2 separate regions of the Homo sapiens genome follow, and region 1 is linked to region 2. The links come from fine-mapping of genetic effects on gene expression. A gene starts in region 2. The other region holds a variant in brackets. All regions are shown on one strand. Distances are between the middles of the regions. Region 1 holds the start of CHAF1A (chromatin assembly factor 1 subunit A). Region 2 holds the start of MPND (MPN domain containing).

Region 1 (2,898 bases), 60 kb before region 2:
GAAGCTCACACTTACCAGGAGATCTGGCTTGGCAAAACCTAGTTTAGTTATTTTGGTTAATCTACGTATGTTTTGTAAGCATTACATAAAAGTGAGTACTTTTTAAAAGCAGACTGGGGCTTCCTAAAAAACTCCATCGTCCATACATGAAACCACCCCTCACCCACCGCCCCAAGCTTAGTGAATAAGAAAAGGTACTGAGAAAATTCATGTTTCCTTTCTAGCCACTTCAAAGAAATAAAGACAGTATCATTCTCAAGTGTCCACTTACCAAAAGCCATGGATTTCTACCCCCTAACTGAAGGATATGATTTTTAGTCACTTAACTTTATTTTCGAGACAATCACAAAAATCTATTTGTGTGGCTTTGAGTCACTAGCTTTGGTGCAAGTGGAACAGAAACAACCTCATTAAAAACAGGACCCACCCTCATTAAAAAATCTTGTATATAAAACGGGACACTCCCAATCCAGAGATCCAAAGATACACACGATTAACACATATGTGTGTATAAAGTTACTAACTGCTCTTTATTCTGCGATTACATCCTTTCTAATTTTATTTGGCACTAAAATATACTTTCCTTTCATGATAGCATGGTCCTAGCGAGTAGCGATTTTTTTTTTTAAAGTTAAATATCCTGGCCAGGCATGGTGGCTCATGCCTGTAATCCCAGCATTTTGGGAGGCCAATGCAGGTGGATTACCTGAGGTCAGAAGTTCGAGACCAGCCTGCCCAACATGGTGAAACCCCGTCTCTACTAAAAAATACAAAAATTAGCCAGGCATGGTGGTGCAGGCCTGTAATCCCAGCTACTTGGGAGGCTGAGGCAGAAGAATCGCTTGAACCAGAGAGGCAGAGGTTGGGCAACAGAGCAAGACTCAGTCTCAAAATAAATAAATAAATAAAGTTAAACATCCTGACTTAAAACATCACAGCTCCACGACAGTACCAACTTTATATTAATTTTATGTCTCCGGGAAATCCCACAGGCTAGAAGGAACTACAGCCATGATTTTCAGCCAAGGCGGAATCTGCCCCATAGGGGACACAGGGCAATGGTATTTCTGGCTGTTACTAAGGCATGGTGAGAGGGGCTGCTACTGGCCTGCAAAAGGCGGAGGCCAGGGATGATGCTTAACACCCTGCAGTGCCGTGCCCAGGACGGCAACAAATATCAACACTGCTGAGGCTGAGAAACTGGACTGGCGTCCATTCTAGCCCTTCATTCGTTCACGTTATTTACTGAGCACCTACTATGTGCCAAAGCGTAATGCCAAGTGCTGCCAAAGCGTTATGTAATGCAGAGTCCAGCAAGGGAGAGGGACAGTCTGGTCTTCCTTGGTTCACCCTCCCACGTTTCAGGAGGCCTGTGGTGGGCTCCAAAGACCCCATTCCAAGGCACACGGAGGAGGAAGTCACGGTGCATATCAGGAAGGAGCAAGAACTCGGGAGTCCCACCCTCCTGGCCATCTCTACCATCTGGGCCTCTTCTTACCCGGGCTTACCCCGACCCTCAGCGGCATCGGTACTGGTCCCCGAGCCCGTGCGACCTTGGGCCTCAGTTTCCCCACCCGCTGCAAGGTCCAACATGGTCAAGGGACACAAACGCATCCAGTAACCTGCAGGGCAAGCCCTTTCGCTTCCCTGGGCCTCAGTTTCCCCTCTCGGCCCCTCCGACCCACCGCCCCAGAGAGTCCTGGAGGGACGAACTGACGCAAAAGCGCCGGAAACAAACAATA[T/C]GGTCGCGGCTACAACAATAACGTCAACAAGGGTGCCCTTGGGGACGCCAGGCCCTCGCTGGGGATGAGAAGGCCCCAGGGGGTGAACGCCCGGCCCGCAGGACCAGGCTTGGCGCCCGGAGGCCCGTCCGCCTCCCATCGCCGCCTCGGCCCGTCCAGGCCGCGCGCCGCGCCCCCCCTTCCCCTCGGCGCGGGCCCGAACCGACCTGTGGCGGCTCCCCTGGCGCCGGGCGCCCCGCACTCCAGCTCCTCCAGCATCGCCCCGGCGGCAGCTCGACCTCCTCTCAGGCGGCGGAGGCGCGGGCTCCCCTCAGGCGGCCGCTGCTCTTCGCCCTCCCGCCCGCGCCGCTGCTGCCGCCGCGGCCGCCGCGCTCGTATTTGGCGGGAACCGCGGCGACCCCCGCAGTCCGCGCGCCAATTGGGCGAGCCCGGGTCACGTGACGGCCCGCCTCGGGAATTGAGGGGCGCCGGGGGCATCCTCGCGAGATCCGTGACTTCCATTCCTCCCAGGGCTCGCCCATTGACATATCCGCGAGGGACTGGGCTTCCCCTCGGAGGCCTGTCATTGGCTGGGAGGAGCTGCCCTGCGATTGGAGGAAGGAGGTGTCAAGCTCATTGCTCTGCGCTGCGACTGGCTGATCGCGTGGGATAGTCCCTAAGAGGAGGGAGGCCCAGGCTCTTACGTCACCAGAACATTTTACGCAAGGCGCAGATGACAACTTGAAAGTGGGATTTAGATGAGGAACCTGGAGTTTTGAGTTTATCCTAATGGGACATCGGCTAAATATAGCAACAGCAATTAAAATTATAAATTGCTTTCTACAAGAACAATAAAACGAAGTCTGGGGAGCGCTTCGGAAGTATTTGACATTCAGTAAATAACATGTAGAATGAGTGAACGAAATGGACGAAATGGATCGTTTCTGGTTTAATCCTCAGGAAATTGGCACATGCTGTTTTCTCTGCCTAGAACAATCTTTTCGCAGCTCTTTTCCTGGCTAATTTATACTTTTCAGATCTTAGATCGTCACCCCAGGAAGCCTTTTCTTCCCCAACCCTGACAATATCAAGTGCCTACAACACTGTTCTTTTCCTTAAAGCAATTACAGCTGTGTCTATTTATTAGTTTGTTATTTGACTAATGAATTAATTTCTG
Region 2 (2,898 bases):
ACTCAAGAGGCTAAGGCAGGAGAATTGCTTGAACCGGGAGGCAGAGGTTGCAGTGAGCCGAGATCATGCTACTGCATTCCAGCCTGGGCAACAGCGCGAGACTCTGTCTCAAAAAAAAAAAAAAAAAAAAAAAAAGGCCGGGCATGGTGGCTCACGCCTATAATCCCAGCACTTTGGGAGCTGAGGCAGGCGGACCACGAGGTCAGGAGTTCAAGACCAGCCTGGCCAATATAGTGAAACCCCGTCTCTACTAAAACTGCAAAAAAAAAAAATTAGCCAGGCGTGGTGGCGCATACCTGTAGTCCCAGCTACTCGGGAGGCTGAGGCAGAAAATCGCTTGAACCGGGAGGCAGAGGTTGCAGTGAGCCGAGATCGAGCAACTGCATTCCAGCCTGGGCAAAAAAGCGAGACTCTGTCTCAAAAAAAAAAAAAAAAAAAAAGTACTAATACCTACCACAGATAAAGTGCTTACCATGTGGCAGGCGCCTGCTGAGGGCTTTATTCATTTAACCATCCCCTAATTTTCCCATGGTGGGGAAATATTCCATTTCACGGCTGGGAAACCACAGGAAGGCCGGGGTGTTGCCCATCTGACCCTGCGCGGGTGGTGGCTCCTCTCTGAGCCTCAGCTTCTCCTTTGTGGGATGGGGTGTTTGGTAATCTACGTCCTCCCCACCAGAAGGACCCATCTGTGCCTCAGATTCCTCTCTCCACATGGGGCTTGTCCCGTAAAAAGAGCTCCGGGCCTCAGTGTCCCCTCCACGGGAGCTCCTCCTGCAGGAAAGGAGCTCTGGGCCTCAGTTTCCCCTCCCCACACTGGGGCTTGTCCTAAAGCAAGGGAGCTCTCCAGGCCTCAGTCTCCCTTCCTCACACCGGGGCTCTTCCTGCCGCCAAGGGAGCTCCGGGCCTCAGTCTCCCCTCTTCATGTCGGGGCTCTTCCTGCAGCCAAGAGAGCTCCGAGCCTCAGTTTCCCCTCCTCACACTGGAGCTCTTCCTGCAGTCAACGGAGCCCCGGGCCTCAGTTTCCCCTCGCCACACCGGGGCTCGTCTCTCAGCAAGGGAGCTCCGGGCCTCAGTGTCCCCTCCCTACACTGAAGCTTGTCCTGCAGCAAGGGAACTCCAGGCCTCAGTTTCCCCTTCCTGCCCGAGCCGCGATGGGACGAGGGAGGCGGGGTGCTCACCAGGTAGTAGATGGACAGCACCCCGGCGCCAGGCTCCAGCAGCGCGTCTTTGAGGAGCACCCGCAGTGTGACCGCGCGCCTGGTGAGCGCGCCCCCGGGCCCGCCGCAGCCCCCCGCCCCGGCCCCGCCGCCGCCGCCTCCTCCGCTGACGCTACTGCCGCCGCCGCCACTGCGTCCACCGCCCGCTCCCGCATTCGGCCGCTCAGGGTCCTCGGCCTCCGCTTCGTCCTCGTCCTCCTCCGGCGCCTCCTCGCCCGCACCGCCCGCCGGGGACAGCGGCTCCGGAGCTGCGGACAGCGAGAGGCTGCAGGGAGGCCGCTCGCCCCACGGCTCTGCAGCCCCGCGCCCCTGCAGCCCCGCGCCCCGCGCCTCCGCCCCGCTGGGCCCGCCGTACCTGCCATGGCCGCGCCTCCCCGCGCCCGGAGCTCTAGACTCCGGCTTCCCGGCACGTCACGCGGCCCCGCCCCGGGGAGGGGAGGGGCGCCCCAACCATTGGCCGTCGCCGGGGTCGGGGGAAGGGCTCGGCGCGCTGGGGTGGGCGGAGAAACTGAGGCCTCGGGGATGCCCACGCGGGAGAGAGATCGGGAACTCAGCCCTCTGGGAACATTCGGGAAACTGAGGCGTGACGGGGTGTTGACCGGGAGCTCATTGGTGCGAATGGGGAAACTGAGGCCTCGCTGTCCAGGGATAGAGGTTGCAAGGTGGAAGCCTGGGGCGGGTGCGCGAGTGGCTCAGCCTGCTGCAAGGAGAGGAGAAGGTGAGACCTGCGGTCACCGCACTTGAGGAACTCAGAGGCCTCGGCCTTTAGGACCAGGGGAGAAACTCAGGTCCAGGGGAACAATGCGGACTCCAATAGGGAACAGCCTCGCGCAGACACAGGTGGAGCCAAAGAGCCCAAGCCGGCCTCAGTCGCTAAAGAATTAACTCCCACCCTCCCGGGCGGCCCTCGACTGATTCCATGATTGGACCGTTGCGGAGCCCGCCAGCCAATGATAAGAGTCCCATTTATTTCACCCTCAACCAATCGATAGCAAGCTACTGGATTCCCGCACCAACCAATCCGTGTCAACTATCTGATTACACCAACTCGGATTTGACCAATGGGCAGACGTCCATGTAAACCAATCAGTAGAAACCCTTAGTTATGAGCGCAAACCATCAGAGGCAGGGACTGGACTCACCAGCCAATCAGCTCCGGGTATAAGGCCAGCCGAGTCCGGCCCTCCATACCCTTGGGCGGAGCAGGAGGCAGGGCCGGGCTCGTTGCGCGCCTGATCAGTGCAGCCCCGGCCTTTGTCCCCTACCCTGTTTCTGCAACTACATCCCCGACCCTGTCCTGGGACCTTCGTCCCGGAGCCCAGGCTCTGGGATTTCCCTCAGTCCCTGGCAGGGTTGAAAGTCCGGGATGGGGACTTCCTAAAGCTCCGGGACGCCGTGGGATGGGCTCAAGTGCGGGTGGCTTTGCCCAGACCGCAGTCGGGAAGTGGGAACTGGACAGTAGGGGTGCGGGGGAGGCTCTCCAGGGTGCTCGGGAATGTTCTCAGGAAGAAGACTTGACATAGAGCAAGAGCTGGGTACATGTGAACTATTGTTGTCCAGCCCAGGCACCCTTTAGGGGCCCCACCCTGACTGTCCAGCCAACAACGGGCATCCCCAAGGCCTGCAGACTCAGCATAGCCCAAACCGGCCTCAGTTTATTTCCCCAACTCCTTACGCA

Evidence for each region. PIP is the estimated chance that this variant, and not a neighbour inherited with it, causes the effect.
Region 1: its variant is fine-mapped to the expression of MPND in whole blood (TOPMed, PIP above 0.99).

The regions. Positions count from the first base shown.
Region 1 is chr19:4,401,865-4,404,762 of GRCh38, reverse strand. CHAF1A (chromatin assembly factor 1 subunit A) reads right to left here and starts at 2,123. Exons shown (of 15, transcript NM_005483.3): 1 at 1,949-2,123. The coding sequence starts at 2,000. RefSeq lists enhancers at 970-1,665, 1,666-2,363 and a silencer at 1,876-2,155. The variant T/C (reference allele first, on the strand shown) is at 1,743.
Region 2 is chr19:4,342,278-4,345,175 of GRCh38, reverse strand. MPND (MPN domain containing) reads right to left here and starts at 1,614. Exons shown (of 13, transcript NM_001300862.2): 1 at 1,576-1,614; 2 at 1,182-1,468. The coding sequence starts at 1,582. RefSeq lists a silencer at 1,473-1,762 and enhancers at 1,831-2,562, 2,583-2,702.